Linked DNA regions of Homo sapiens: region 2 is linked to region 1. A link means that fine-mapping ties the variant in region 1 to the expression of a gene that starts in the linked region. Tissue or cell type: blood mononuclear cells. Region 1 holds a variant in brackets; the other region holds the start of a gene. All regions are shown on one strand. Distances are between the middles of the regions.

Region 1 (8,103 bases):
CCTAGCAGACAGTCTGTAGTTGATCACAGCCTGAGCTGTGTATGAGCACACCCCAAAATAAAGAAGGCGCATGCATTGTGTGTGGCCCAAACCCAGAGCTTCATGCCTTACGCCTCCAGGTCCTTCTAGAAAAGCTCTCCCTGTGTCTTGTTTCCCTTAAAAGTATTTAACTCAAGAGTTTAACGTTCATGTGACAAAATAAGTACGTATCATTTGTATTCCTCCCTTAAAACCTAAGTTAAAAGCAGTGGATTCACCAAGAAAGAAAAATGTCATTTCACCCTCTCTGTGGGTATTTCATTTAGTTACTAAAATGTATTTTTGATACTTGAAATAACTGGTAAGTTAATTGACTAATGAGAAAAGCATTGCACACAGGTGGCTAAAGCTTCTGTAGCTCTGAATGGATTGTGATGGAGAAGCGCTGCTGTGGCCTTGCCCTCCTCACTTCTCACCCCATTTAACTGACAGCCAGTTTCAAATGCTTAGCTGATTCTTCTGGAAGCTACTTCCGTATGCCTACATCTCATGCTTATACTAGCATTTCTTCAGTTATCACTCTCCTGTTATAGAAATTCGAAGAAATGTGAGAAGGTCAAGATCAAGGTCACGTGTCATGGAATGACAAAAGTGTGTTGTACCCAGGTGTTCTGATTTCTAGACCTGTGTTGTTTTCCTAGTGTACTATGATGTGTTTAATCCATGGACATTCTAAGAAACTCAGGTTGCAATTTTCTTAAAACTTAATTCCTTGATATGAATATTTATCAAGGACAATTTTGTCAAAAATGAAAGCATTTTCATTCTGGAAAATTGACTCTTAGGGTCACATGCCCACTGTGGAGCTCCTGAAAAAGTATCACCTGATGCAGTTTGCGGAAGTAACCAGAGCTGTGAGGTAGAGTATGCCATCCTTCCTGTTTGGGGTTTTAAAAATGCAAGCCTGATGAGAGTTGACGTGCACGCTCTGTGAGAAACTCACCCTCCTTCTGACGCGCCTCCCCCCTCACCAGCGAGGGCAACCTGCTGCTGCTGCACGAGGCGCTGGCGAAGCACGAGGCCTTCTTCATTCGCTGCGGAATCTTCCTCATCCTGGAGAAGCTGAAGATCATCACCTACAGGAACCTCTTTAAGAAAGTGTAAGCATTTCCCCGGCACATTGGGCTCCCAGTGTGGCTCTCGGCAGAGCAGTCAGACATCCAGGGCTGTTGCAGTCTAAGAGAGAAGGCCACCGTGTGGGTGGGGTCGTTATCTTCCTTCCATTGTGTGGGATAAAATGAAGCCTCCGCCCACTGCCTCCTGGGGACCCTGCGCGAGACACGTGAGTAGCACAAGCTGTGCCTGGACTTGTGGGGGAGGTAAGCAGGTTCTATGTGAGAAGACAACTTGAGAACATCAGCCCTGAGAGCCGCGGTACCACATTTCATCAGAGCACACAGGACTCGCCACTCACTCCCCTCCCTTAGTGCTGACCAAGTAGCCCTCCCAGCCACTTCTGCCTGTCACAAAGGCAGATGCAGAGATCGTCATTCCTTTCCTCACACGTCTTCTGAGGCCTCGTCCCAGCAGGATCTCAGTTGTGTAAACTTCAGGCAAAGGCCAACTTTGTATAGAGCTGTGGGTAGCACGTCACAAACAGTAGGGACCCTATTTCGCTGAGTCTGTGAGACACAGCCCATTGTCAGGTGCTTCCTGATTTCAGGGAGATTAAAATGTGAAAAAAAAAACCGAACCTTAATGAAATACTTAGAAAATAATTAAAAATTGTGTTTGTACTAGTGACTTTTTAAAGATTGAAAAGTCAAATTAGATTTAATAGCTCTGAGAGTGTAGTTTAGAGTTTATCTAATAGGTGGGAATTTTTTTACTCCTTTAGAACACCGGCTTATTAAGAGGTGCCTTTTCTTGGCTGTGGAGTATTGCATCCTGTCGGTAACCACAGTGCCCTTCTCCTCCCCTCTTCCAGGTATTTGTTACTGAAAACACACCAGCTGTCTCTGGATGCTTTTCTGGTTGCCTTGAAGTTCATGCAGGTGGAGGACGTGGACATTGACGAAGTTCAGTGTATTCTGGCTAACTTGATATACATGGTGTGTGAGTCCTGGTTTTAATTTAAGCAGCTACTCACAGCAAGATTCAGCCCAGAATTTGAAGCTTCAGTGTGGTGGTGTTAAAATTGTTAAAAGGCCTTCTGCTTTTTTTTTGATAGAACTAATTTTAGCCCAGGAAATACCATTCACCAGGGCCTTAGGAGCATGAGGGGACGGATACTCTTGTATGTTTGCATATTCTTTACTGGCGGTACATCCCTCGGTATCTGTCGATTCTCCAACCCCCCTCGGATACCAAAATCCACAGGTGCTTCAGTCACTGATAGGACGTAGTATTTGCATATGAGCTATGCACGTCCTCCTGTATACTTTAAATTATCTCTAGGTTACTTAAAATACTCAGTGCACTGTAGATAGCTGTTGTACTGTATTGTTTAGGGAATCACGGCAAGGGAAGAGCGTCTGTACGTGTTCATTACAGATGCATTTTTTTTCCCCAAATATTTTCAGTCCACAGTTGGTTAGATTCATGGATATGAAACCCACCGTGGATATAGAGGGTTGATTGTATTTATTTTTACTCATTGTCTTCCCGCTGAACTGAACTGTGCCGCTCTTGGGGAAGAATGCTAATGCCAAATTAATTAGATCACCCAGCATCTTTGACATGACTCAGATCCAAAAATGTAAACGCATTCCTCCCTTTCTGCCCCGCAGGGACACGTCAAAGGCTACATATCGCATCAGCATCAGAAGCTGGTGGTCAGCAAGCAGAACCCATTTCCTCCCCTGTCCACGGTGTGTTGAAAGTACACGGAGCCCCGAGGACGGGTGAGCAGTTGTTTCTTTCCACTTTGGTTGTGCTGATGAGACCGGTCCGGTACTGCAACAAGGCTCCCTGAAGCCGGAACTCTTGGAGGCGCTTTTCCCAGGGATGCTGAGGCTGAGATTTTCAGCACACCCGAGTTAATCTCCTTCATTTGTAACTAATTTCAGCCTGATGAAAACCTGGAATTCCTTTTTCACAGACTCGGCTGGTTCTGGAGTCTTTGTGAGACTTCTTTGAAGGAGGCTTTGCGTGAAGGCTGCTCGGCTCACTTTTCCTAAGTGTGGTTCCTGAAGGCTGTCTTTGTAACTTTTTGTAGTTCTTTGTGTAAAAAGCGTATTCTGAATTTATACACATGGCATGTTCTTCATTATATCTTCCAGGATACATCTATTTTTATATATTAAATTTGAATGTGTTATCAAAATGCTTGGTTAACTTAAGGCACCTTTTTAAAAGCAGAATTTAATTTGATTTAAATTTTCCAGATTTTATAGCTTGCCTGTATGGATGCTCCTCAATTTATGATAGGGTTACATCCCAATAAACTTATTTTATTTGCCTTTGCTTTGTTGGTTAAAAAAAAATTTCTTTTAAAAAACCATCTTAAATTGAAAATACATTTAATACACCTGCTACTAAACATTATGGCTCACTCTAGCCTTCCTTAACATACTCAGAAGCCTCCACTCTTAGGCAAAATCAAACACAAAGCCGATTTTATTTTATAATAAAGTGTAGATGCCGGGCGTGGTGGCTCACGCCTGTAATCCCAGCACTTTCAGAGGCCAAGGCAGGCAGATCACCTGAGATTGAGAGTTGGAGACCAGCCTGACCAACATGGAGAAACCCCGTCTCTACTAAAAATACAAAATTAGCCGGGCGTGGTGGCGCATACCTGTAATTCCAGCTACTCAGGAGGCTGAGGCAGGAGAATCGCTTGAACCCGGGAGGCAAAGGTTGCAGTGAGCCGAGATCATGCCATTGCACTCCAGCCTGGGCAACAAGAGCGAAACTCTGTCTCAAAAAAATAAATAAATAAAAATAAAAGTGTAAATACCTCGTGTAGCTTACCGAGTGCTACACTGAGAGTGGAAACTGAAGGGCTGCGTGGACGCTGAGGCATGGCTGCCCCTGAGCGCGTCCCTTCGGCACCACGGCGAGGTTGACAGTCGCTAAGTTGGGCCACTCACATTGGGCTGTTGGGGCTGCCATCACAGAATACCACAGGCAGCTTAAGCAACAGGAATGTATTTCCTCACAGTTCTAGAGGCTGGAGGTCTGACTGAGATGGGGTTGCCAGCACGGTCGGCTTCTGGGGAGGGCTCTCTTCTGAGTTGCACACTTAAGAATAAGGTGGTATTCTTGCTGTGCTAGAGATGGTACAGATAGAGATGACTCTCTCCCTCCTTTTTTGAGACAGGACCTCACTCTGTCACCCAGGCTGGAGTGCGGCAGTGCAGTCAGTGCTTACTGCAGCCTCGACCTCCGAGACTCAAGTGATCTTCCCTCCTCAGCCTCCCAAGTAGCTGGGAGCACAGGTGCATGCCACCACACCCAACTAATTTTTTTATTTTTTGTAGAGACAG[C/G]GTCTTGCTAATATTGCACAGGCTGGTCTGGAACGCCTGGGCTAAAGCAATTCCCCCACCTCGGCCTCCCAAAGTGCTGGGGTGACAGGCATGTGCCACCACACCCGGCTCTCTTCCTCTTATAAGGCCACAGTTCTGTTGGGTTAGGACCTCACCCTTATGACCACATTTAGCCTTAGTTACCCCCTGAAGACCTTACCTCCAGATACAGTCACACTGGGGCTAGGACTTCAATGTAAGAAATTTGGGGGACACAGTTTAGTCCCCAGCACTGCCATTTTTCAGACTATGCACATTTCCCCGTTTATAAAAAATTTACTAAAGAAGAACACAAACTATAAGAGCTCATCTTTGCAAAGTTACTGCATTTGAAAGCTGCTTGTTCAAGGAGAGGCTATTCTACAAAGTGTGAATCCCTCTTTCTCTCTCTCCGGGCCGCGCGGCGCAGGACTCACTTTGTGTGGCTCCTTCCTCAGGTTCCCCTGGATGCAGGAGCTGCCCCAGGGCTTCAGCAGCACTCCTTAGCTCGCTCCTACATCTGCAGGTCTGCAGTTTCTTCCGGGCTGGGCGGGGAAGCTTGTGGGCTCTTCTGGGGCCCGAATGGGCCTCTTTGAAGGTGACTCATTCCCGTGTATTGGCCCGGGCTCTCACCTGGAGCTCAGCAGGGCTGTGGGTGGGCTCCCCTGTTTCTCTCCACACGTAGGGAGCTGGATTCTGGGAGCGCAGATCCCAGTAGAGCCAGGGAAGCCAGATCTCTTTTATGCCCTGCTCTCCTAAGTCACACCCGGATTCCAGCCGTGGACTGCCACACGTACACGCGAGAGATGAATGCACGAAGGCAAGCGCCTGTGCCTGTGGAGTTCATGCCAAGGATCCTCTTGACCTACGTAGCTGCTCCCCAGCAGCAGCAAGGTCCTCAGCGCTGGCAGTCGTGACAAGTGCCTCCTATGTCCTGTGGGGCAGACACGGAGCAAACTCATGCCGGCGGAGGCTTTGGGCGCGCATCTGTTTTCTAGCTACCCATGTGTCCAGTGGGGCCCCGTTCTCTTGCAGTGTTGGGTACGGAAATCTGATCTTCCCTGCTGCTCTGCATGGGCCTTGAACATCCTTCAACTTTTGACTTAAATGATTTTCTTGCAGTAATTTGAATATTGGAATTTCTGCCAGCATACCTGAATTTCATTCTGGATGTAATAGCGGTGGAAAGCTCAGGTTTGTCAACATTTCTGGGTAACGTATTGAACCGTCCATAGTGACACCTAAAGTCAAGGATTGATACTTTAAGGTAATTGGATGGTTATTCTTAGCGATGAAAGAAACAACCTCAGTGTAGGTGTCCTTACGTTTACCTCTTGGTGTTCAGGCCTCTGTCAGTTCGTTCTCACGCTGCTATAAAGAACTGCCCGAGACTGGGTAATATGTAAAGGAAAGAGGTTTAATGGACTCACAGTTCCACATGACTCGGGGGACCTCAGGAAACTTACAATCATGGCGGAAGGGGAAGTGAGCATGAGCAAAACTGCCACTTTTAAAACCATCAGCTCTCGTTAGACGCCCTCACTGTCACGAGAACAGCGTGGGGGAGCCGCCCCCGTGATCCAATCACTTCTCCACACGTGGGGATTACAATTCAAGATGGAATTTGGGTGGAGACGCAAAGTCAAGGCCTGTGTCCAGCATGGCAGCATTCAAGTCCACGGGCGTACACATGGGCATGTATCAGTGTGTTTGCATGGATTCAAATATTGGACTTAATAATCTCTGCCCAAGTGTGAACTAGTTTGGCCCTTTTAAAACATCATCACAGGCTGGACGTGGTGGCTCACATTTATGATACCAGCACTTTGGGAGGCTGAGGCCAGTAGATTGCTTGAGCCCTGGAGTTCGAGACCAGCCTGGGCAATATGGCAAAATCCATCTCTGCAGAAAATACAAAAATTAGCTGGGCATGGTGGTCCACACCTGTAGTCAGGAGGCTGAGGTGGGAGGGTCAATTGAGCCCAGGAAGTTGAGCCCACTATGAGCTAGGATCGTGCCCTGCACTCCAGCCTTGGGTGGCAGACAGAGACCCTGTCTCAAAAAACAAGAAAAACAGTCATCATAGCTAGCTTCCCTTTTCTTGAGTTTTACTGTTTTGTTAGATTTGTTTATGGTGTAGTTTCTAAGCATGTCATTAAATGCCAGTAGAGTAGTTACTTCATTTTGAAGGCCCCTCATGTCTCTGCTGACAGTCTGGGCCTGTAGCTTTCTCTGATTGTTCCTGATTTCACAGATTTCACCATTACGGAGGGAGGGTCTTCATATGCTTTGCCTCTGCCCAGCTGTGTTTGAAGTAGGTTTTTTTTTTTTTTTGAGATGGAGTCTCGCTCTGTTGCCCAGGCTGGAGTGCAGTGGCATGATCTCGGTTTACTGCAACCTCTGCCTCCCGGGTTCAAGTGATTCTCCTGCCTCAGCCTCCTCAGTAGCTGGGATTACAGGCGTGAGCCACCACGCTTGGCAAAGATTTTTTTTTTTTTTGTATTTTTAGTAGAGATGGAGTTTCACCATGTTGGTCAGGCTGGTCTCGAACTCCTGACCTCGTGATCCGCCCGCCTCAGCCTCCCAAAGTGCTGGGATTACGGGCGTGAGCTACTGCGCCTGGACTGGAATAGTTTTCAAGCAGGGCTTCCACTCTAGTAAATCCAAATTTGTAATAGAAGTACCAGAAGCAAGATTGCAGACATTTCTGCAGCATTATGTACAGAAAGCCTGCCATGTTCATTAGCTGATTTTAAAATCATTAGTAGGCATTTAAAGCAGTGACTTACTTACCTTATTGTAGTTTGAGAATAATACAACCAAACTTCACTAAGACTTTAAAATTCACCCTAGTGAATTTTAAACTGCCCTCCCCATTAATTTGCCTTAAATTACAGTGTTGCTTTTTGCCAAGGACCTTTCAGAGAAATGGGCCATTTCATCTACAGGTTGGAGAAAAGTTTAATTCTGGGGTTAAAGCGTAAATGAAAGAGAGTGTGCTGAAGAACAGTAAGGCTTAAAAACCCAAGTTATGTGTAAATTGTTCTCAACTCAAGAGAATATTTGTCCACCTACATTTTTAATTCCTCTTTTTAAAAGTCCTCTCTGCTCTTCAACGATGCTCTGCTCTGTGTCACTCAAGGACACTGGTGGAGAAGCAGCTGTGCCCCTTCCTTAACTAAGAGTTAAAATGTGAACATTTATGCCATTTCTGTCCATTTCAGTGCAAATTCAGACCCTGCTAGGAGCTCCAGTCTCCAAGGACGTTTCACTGGGGGCTGGACTGCAGCTCTGTCTTTGGTACTTGCATTGCAGCTGCAGCCTTCATGACAGCAGGTGTTTACTGTGATTCAGCACGTGCTGTCCTGGTCTGTTCTACAAAATACCATGGACTGGGTGATAACAGAAACTCATTTCTCACAGATCTGGGGGCTGGGAAGTTCAAGATCTGGGTGCCGGCAGATTTGGTGTCTGCTGAGGGCTCTCTGTCTCCAGGGTAGCACCTCACTGCAGTGTCCTCGTATGGGAGAAGAGATGGAAGGGGCTGGCAGAGCCCTCATGGCCTAGTCACCTCCCAAGGGCCCCACCTCCCCATATCATCATCTTGGGGTAAGTTCCA
Region 2 (8,103 bases), 31 kb before region 1:
CTAAAATGTCTGGAAGAAAGTATAAGAGAAAACTTTGTGACCTCAGATTAAGCAAGATTTCTTGGATACTAAAAGCACAATCCATAGAAGAACAAACTGATACATGTGACTTGAAAACTTAAAACAATTACTCTTCAAATGGCACAGTTAAGAGAATCAAAAGACAAGTTGAAGACTAGGCAGAAAGTATTTGCAAGGCGAATATCTGATACAGGACTTGTATCCAGAATACATAATAAACTCAAATACTCAATAATAAGAAAATAACCAACCCAATAAAAATGAGCAAAATATTTAAATAGACACTTCGTCAACGAAGATACATAGAATGGCAAGTAAATACAAAGATGCTTAGCATCAGAGGGAAATGCAAACTAAAACTACAATGACACTCCACCACACACCCACAAGCACAGCTAAAGTTACAGACTGAGGACACCACACGCTGGTGGCGGAGTGGAACTGGAGCTCCCATACACTGCTGGGAGAGACGCACACGCTGGTGGCGGAGTGGAACCGGAGCTCCCATACACTGCTGGGAGAGACGCAAAAGGGGCAGTCACTTGCAAAAACAAGAAATTCCGTACAAAGTTAAACATACATTTTCCATATGACCCTGAGAACTTACTTCTAGATAAAGAAGTAAGCAGAACTCACCTGAGAGGAGTAAGAATATATGTCCAAACAAAGGGTTATTCACAAATGTTTACAGCAGCTTTATTTAAAACAACCCAAGGCCAGGCGCGGTGGCTTATGCTGGTAAACCCAGCACTTTGAGAGACCGAGGTGGGTGGATCACCTGAGGTCAGGAGTTTGAGACCAGCCTGCCCAACATGGCGAAACCCCGACTCTACTAAAAATACAAAAATTAGCCAGGCGTGGTGGCAGGTGCCTGTAATCCCAGCGACTCGGGAGGCTGAGGCAGGAGAATCGCTTGAACCTGCGAGGTGGAGGTTGCAGTGAGCCAAGATCGTGCCATGGCACTCCAGCCTGGGCCACAAGAGTGAAACTCCGTCTCAAAGAACAAACAAACAAAAAACCCCAAACATGGACACCCAAATGTCCATTAACTGGTGAATGGATAAAACAACTGTGGTATACCCATTCTACTAGGTAATAAATTACAATCACACTGCGTTGTGCATGAATCTCAAAAGCACTGTCCTAAGTGAAAGCCAGATACAAAAGACTATGAAATACATGACTGCATTTAGATAAGGTTCTAGAAATCGCAAAATATAGTAACAGAAAGCAAATGGGGGACCGCCAAGGGCTAGGAGTCAGGGGAGAGGGCTGACTGCAAAAGTGGTCATGGCAATTTCGGGGGTGGTAGCAATATTCTACCATTCTACCAAGAAAGATTCCATCTTGACCGTGGTGCCGGTTACGTAACTGCATGCATCTGTTAAAACTTCCTGAAGTGCACATTATATGTAGACTCTATCTCAAAGCTGGTAAGAAAACATCATCCACTTACACTTCAGACAAAGAATGGATGTATGTACACCAAACTGTCAACAGTAGTTTTCTTTGGGTGGTAGGAGTATAGGTGATTGAAGTCTTCTTTTTTGTATTTTTTATAATTTTTACAATGCAGTCACTTGCATATCCAGAAAAAAAGTTTTTTTAATTCAAGCCTTTTAATAGAAATAATTGTATGACACATCGTGACCTAAAATATAGATATTAGACTACTGAATGAATGTTACTTTACAAAAAGAAGACACCAGAAAAAAAGTCGCTTATAAATAAAATATCCAAGTATGGTAAAATGTACTTTTTTGTTACTTCAGAAACGGAACACCATCACTTTGAATTAAATGCTACCAAATCTGTTTGAATACCTTAAAGGCAACCACTAATCACAAAACACAACAGAGAACAAAACCACTTTTTCTGAATTTTGAATTTTTTCAAAATCTGTTTGAATATCTTAAAGGCAACCATTAATCACAAAACACAACAGAGAAAAGACCCTCTTATTACTGTGGCAAGTGACACAGTCATGAGTTTTACATATAACGAGAAAATAATTTGCCGTATACTTGCAAAATATGAGTCACGTGGCTCCTAGAAACACACCTCCTTCTCTTCCGTAATGGGATAACTTTAAATATGGTTCTAAGCAGCTTAAGCCTGAAAACAAAAATTCCACCACGGCAATAAACAAAACCACTTGTTGCCTCTGGGGCTCCCGGCCCTGCAGTGGAGGCAAACGCCCTGCCTTTCCGCTCCCCGGCGAGAGCCTGCGAGGCACCCGGAGCGGCCGCCCGGCCGCGTCTGCGTCACGCGGGGCAGGAGCGGCGTCCCCAGCCCCGGCCGCCGCCTCACCTGGTAGAGCTCCTCGAGGTTGTACCTGATGGAGGTGCTGCTCTGCACGGCCCGCACCGCCTCGTGCAGCTTCCGCCACGTGTCCTGCGTGTAGTTGTCGGGCAGCCGAGGTCTGTCTGCAGGGCGGAGGGAGAGCGGGCGGCTCAGGGCGCGCCGCGAAGCGCCCCGCGTAGCCACCCCCGACCCGGCCGGCGCCCCGGCGCCCCCGCTCCCGGGGCCCGCACGGATCTCGGGGCCTTCCCCCCAAGTCGGGCGGGGTCTCGTGGGGTCCCCGCCCGGGGCGCCTGGCCCTCGACCCGGCCGCCGCACCCACCTCGGAAGTTCTTGATGACCAGCTTCTTGGAGCCGCCCGCGCCCCCCGGCTTGGCGGGCGCGGCGGCCAGGGCCGCGGGCTTGGTGAGGCCGTTGGTGCGGCCCACGAGCGCCGAGAAGCTGCCCTTCCGCGGGGCCTCGTCCGCCATGGCTGGGCCGGAACCGCCGCGCCCCGCCCCGAGCGCCGCCGCCCGCCGAGCTCCGCTCCGCCCGCCCCGGTCCGCGCGGCCTCCGCCCCGTCCTCCTCGCGCGCCCCGCCCCGCCCCGCCCGCGTGCCCGAGCCCAACCGCCGCCGCGCCCGGCTACTCCTGAGGGCTTAGGAACGCGCGCCGGGAATCCCTCCTGAGGGATCGGACTCCCCCTAAGAGATTCGGACACCCCCTCCTGGCTCGAGGGCGCGCGCCGGGACTCCCGTCCTGAGGGATCGGGACCCTCACCCCCGGCTCCGGGGGGCGCACCGAGACCCTGCCCCCAGGGCTCCGGGCACCCCCTCCTGGCTCGGGGATGCGTGCCGCGGGCACCCCTCCTGAGGGGATCGGGAGCCGGGACACCCTCCTGAGGGCCCCGGGGCGCGCGCCTCCTGAGGGCTCGGCACCCCCACCCCGGGCGTGAGACCACCTCGAGGGCTCAGGGGTGCGCGCCGGGACGTGCCCTAACTCCTGCAGGCTCGGGAGCGCGCGGCGGAGGCACCTTATGAGAGCTCGGGAGCGCGCGCCATGTCCCTCCCCCTCCCCCTCCTCGGGCGCGCGCGCCCCGAGGCCCTGGCCCAGCCAGGCGCGGAGGGTCCTCCGCGGCCTGGTTTTCACAAGGGGCAGACGAAGGGTCAGCGCAGTGAAAGGCAGTTTAGCCGTGGGGCTGTCCTCGCCACTGGACCCCAAACCCCTCAGCCCGGGCGGGCCCGAACACACAATCAGAGCCGCTGGCGTCCCGGCTGAGAGGACGGGGCCCCGGCAGAAAGACCCCGGGCCCCCTCAGCCCGAGCGCGTCGCCGAGCCGGTCCCCAGGTTCTCCCTCCGGAACCAACCTGCGCACCCGCGGCGGGGCCGGGGGCGCCAGGACCCAGACGGACCGAGGGCCGGAAGTGACGCCAGCTGGCCCGCTTGAGGCGTAGGGGGTGGCGCTCTCCGTTCGGCGGCGCTCCCATGGCGCACATTACCATTAACCAGTACCTGCAGCAGGTGGGTCCTAGCCGGGGAGCGCGCGGCGGCGTGGTTGGCCCTCGGCGTGTTCCGTGTGTCCCCTCCTGCCTTGGACCCTCAGGCCTTTTCCTTTCCCGCCTCGCCACCCTTCTTCCGTTCGGGTCCCCGGCGGGCAGCCGCGCGAGCCGAACAGCGGCGGCCGGGACTCGGGAAGGCGGCCCGAGTTCTCCCCTGCAGGGCCGCCGTGGGGGCCGGGCGGTGTCCGTGGATCGCGGAGTCGTCGCGGTGTAAGTAGACGCGGCGGTCCCAGGTCGCTGCCCTCACTTGCTGGCACGTGTGGCCGCGCTCCCAGGCGGTCCGAAGGGCCTGCGGGCCACGCCGAGGGCCCGCTGTGGGCGGTGCTGTGTCGGATGGACGCTGTTTCCCAGCAGGATGCGGGATGAATTCGGGGACTCCAGGAGGCGATGGAGGAGTAAGCGCGAGGCTGTGGCCGTGCTGCAGGCCGGGCTCGTGCCCCTCGTCCTCGCTGTCGTTTAACGCCCTTCACTCTCCGAGCACAATGCACACTTCATATCGCTCGGTACATGCGTCTGACAGATGTTGTTCAACAGCTTGTAAGTAGCAGAAGCACAGTTAAAAGATGGACACTTGTAAAGATTCAACGCATATTCTTTCCACTAAACTATGCCTGTCTTCAGAACCAGCACTGTGGTAACAGGGATAGGAAATATAGGGAATGGATTTTTAAAATATTTGAAGGAAACATTACCAAGACGTGGTGAATAAGAATGGGTGGGCTGAGGGACACGGAGGAGTTAAGAATGATTCCCAGGCTTGTAATCTGGGAAAAAGATGAATAGAGTGGATTTGGAGGGAGAAATAAAGTTTTGGGCATGTTGAGTTTGAGGTGTCTGTTGACAACTGGGTAAAGATACGTACTTGATAGCTGAAAAGTCTGACATGATTGGGCCCAGCAGTTGCTTGGTTAATTGAGAAAACTGGTTAAAACAGGAATCACGAAGAAATGGATGTATGTTTTTAACTTAAAACATGAAAGTATACATTCACTTGCCAATTTTTTTTTTACACCACTTACCTCAAGTTCTATACTTGCCAATCTTTTGATGTAAGCCCAGGGCCTTTTCTTTAGGCTGTGTCTGTTTTGGCCTAATCTTAGCAGACTTAACATTTTCCAATATCAGTTTATTTAAAGTTAAACAAGGATATAGGCATTTAAGAACCAATTTGATACGATTATCTTTAGAATTTTCTTAATCTTTTACAATTTTTCCCCCATACCTAATTATTTTTTTAACAAACTCAAGTGAGCCTTTTAAAAACATACAACTTAGCTTATAGAGAAACAACTGTTTCCTTTTGCATTCATATTTCATTGATGAGCTTAAAAGTACATAACTACCATAACAGGTTCGGGTAGCAAAAATAGATTTGAGAACAAACACATCTGGATATGAGAACACATACAACTTAGCTGGCAAAAGCTTGCGATGTATTAGAGTGAAGCCTACTTGCTGAAAGTCGTCATCATACCTTGGGCATCAGCTCGTGTATTTCAGGGAGGGATTGGAGAGAGTCATTTTTCCAATTCAAGTCAGTTAAAGTGAGACTGATAAGCGAGCTTCTACTCTATGTGTGTAAACTGAAGTTTAAACAGACAGATTTGGGTTAAAGATACAAACCTGAGACTCCTTCGTAGTCACATGATGGGAAAGACTGAGAAGGGAAGGGGTGACCCAGGGAACAAGTAGAGAGAGTAGACAGGGGCTGGGCCCAGGATGGACTTCTATGGAGATGTGCATGCCTACATCTCCGCAAAGGGCAGTGTAGCCACTGGGGTGAGACAGCAAAAAGTCCGCTTCCTCCTAATTCTGATGGATAAAAATATTTCTGGTTGAACTGGCATGTTACCTAAGTTTTATGTATTAACAGATTCTTGAATATTTTAAGAAAATAGGTGCCTCTTCGATACAGAATGGCAACCGGTTATACATGGTAACACATGTTTGATTTGTTGTATAGGAACATAAGTGCCAATGTCACTGTATCTCTTTGGGAATAAAACCATCATTTGCACATTCATCAAAGCTAGGAAGTTGGGGGAAATCATTGACTCCTCCTTTAGTCTCAGCAAATAGTCCTTTACCTAATTGGATGTATCTCCGAAGTCTCTCAGATCCATCCCTTCTTTATCTGTTGCCACATGCTCCCCAGCCAGGACGCCCTGCTGCAGGTACTGGTTGATGGTTTCCTTTACTTTGCCCTTTCCAAGTGAGACACAGCAAAGAGACCATAGACTTTAAAGACAATAAGACTTCAGCCCAAATCCTGGCATTTTTACTAATTCTGGGACCATGACAAGTTATCTAACTTCTGTGACTCTCCATCTCTAAACAGGCTTCACATAAGTTGTGAGAATTAAAAAGACCATGAATTCACAGTAAATGCATTTACTTAGTAAATGATAGTTCTGGTATTTTATTGAAGAAGAGTTGAGCATCTGCCTCTGTTACTAAAACTTCATTGACTCTCTGTTTCCTCCAGGGAAAGTTCCAAATGCTTTAGCACATCATCTGGTCCATGTTTACCTGTTAACTTGGCATCACCAGTCTGAAGGTTTATTTCACTTATGCTGAATGCACCATTGCCCCACCGAAGTACTCATAACTTAAAATATACCATTTAACCATTTTAAAGTACACAATTAAGTACATTCACAATATTGCACAACCATCACCATTATCCAGAATTTTTTGTCACCCCAAATGGAAATGTCATAAGCATTAAGCAGTCACTCCCTGGTCCTCCCTCCCGAGCGCTTGTCAACCGCTAATGTGCTCTCTGTCTGTATGGATTTGCTGACTCTGGTGATTTCAGTATGTGGCTTTTGTGTGTCTTTCCCTTGCATCATGTTTTCAGGGTTCATCTGTGTTGGAACATGTGTCAGTGTGTCGTTCTTTTTTATGGCTAATGATATTCCATTGTATGGAGTATTTTGTTTATCCATTCATCAGTTGATGGACCACTTCAGTTGTTTCCTCTTTTTGGCTGTTGTGCTGCTGCTGTGAACATTCTTGCGCAGGTTTTGTATTCTTTTTGGCATATACCTAAGAGTGGAATTGCTGAGTCATATGGTAATTCTGTGTTTAACTTGTTAAAGAAATGCCAAAGCAGCTAGCTGCATCATTTTACATTTTCACCAGCAATGTATGAGGGTTGCAATTTCTTCACTTTCTTGTCAATGCTTGTTTTTTTCCATTCTTTTTATTATGGCCATCCTGCTGGGTGCGGAGTGGTATCTTCTTGTGGCACCCCATGATCTTTCTTGTCCCAAAGATTTTCTTCATTATGTTCCTTTTGCCAAGAACACCTCTCTTTTTTACAGGTGTAGTGAACATCTTTATTTAGGGAATCAGCTTTGAGTTAGATACTTTACTCCTTAATCTTCAGTAGTTCTTCATATTGTCTTTCAAGAGTTTATGGAATTGGAAAGTTTGACTATTCAGAAGTGACTTCAGAGGTTCATGACCTGTAATGATTTTGAATTTTTAAAAGAGTTATGAGTTCCAAGAGTAGATGGTGCCTCCTGTGGACCAGACTGGAGGGCGTGAGGGGCATGCAGCAACCACAAGGAAGTCTTCCTGGGGCCAGAGCCAGGGAGCATCCCCTGGTGAGCCAGGCCTGGGGGTGCCGCTCAGAAGGTGCTCACTTGGAGTCTGGTTGTGTGGTCCCATTGAGGGCTGAAGGCTCTGCAGCATGAGCTGTTAAGAGTTGGCCAGGTGGCTGGGCTGCTAGGGGTCCTGTGTCCACTGCGGCGCCAGTCGCACCTTTAGGGCTTGCAAGTACCGTCCGTTGCCATCCCTGCTTTTCCTCTTCACATCCCCAGTCTTCTCACAGTTTAGTCATTGAGGCAGGGGCATTGATAGGACCACCCCTGGGACACATTCATGCCTGCCAAGCAAGCTGGGGCCCTCCTTGGGCTCAAGGCCCTGTGGCACTGAGCCCTCCTCTGGTCAGGTCACCCGTGGGACACTGGGTGCAGCCCAGGTAGGTGTGGCCAAGCAGAGCCCAGGATGTGGCGACATCACCCTGCATATGTGCAGGGACCACCCTGGGAGGTCACAGGCAAAGGAGGGCTACCAGTGAGTGCCCCCAGCAGGGGTCTCCGCCTCTCCTTGGAGGGCCCCGGTGTCTGTACTCCAGGGTTTGATCCCTTCGTGACCACTGTGTCCCCAGTGTGTTTAGTCATTGAAGTATGCTTCCATTCCACAGTGCTTGCTCCAAGTCTGGGACTCTCAGCTTT

The links. PIP is the estimated chance that this variant, and not a neighbour inherited with it, causes the effect.
Region 2: PCID2 starts here. The variant in region 1 is fine-mapped to the expression of PCID2 in blood mononuclear cells (TOPMed, PIP above 0.99).

The regions. Positions count from the first base shown.
Region 1 is chr13:113,172,953-113,181,055 of GRCh38, reverse strand. PCID2 (PCI domain containing 2) reads left to right here. Exons shown (of 14, transcript NM_001127202.4): 11 at 825-898; 12 at 1,014-1,139; 13 at 1,967-2,090; 14 at 2,769-3,520. The coding sequence ends at 2,858. Among named protein-coding and RNA genes, the nearest start is that of PROZ, 18 kb to the right of the region's middle. RefSeq lists an enhancer at 7,771-8,103. The variant C/G (reference allele first, on the strand shown) is at 4,467.
Region 2 is chr13:113,204,317-113,212,419 of GRCh38, reverse strand. PCID2 (PCI domain containing 2) reads left to right here and starts at 3,751. Exons shown (of 14, transcript NM_001127202.4): 1 at 3,751-3,821. The coding sequence starts at 3,786. It overlaps CUL4A (cullin 4A), which reads right to left and starts at 2,807. Exons shown (of 20, transcript NM_001008895.4): 1 at 2,645-2,807; 2 at 2,332-2,447. The coding sequence starts at 2,792. RefSeq lists silencers at 2,312-2,551, 2,612-2,941, 3,042-3,311, 3,572-3,861 and enhancers at 3,396-4,045, 4,046-4,696.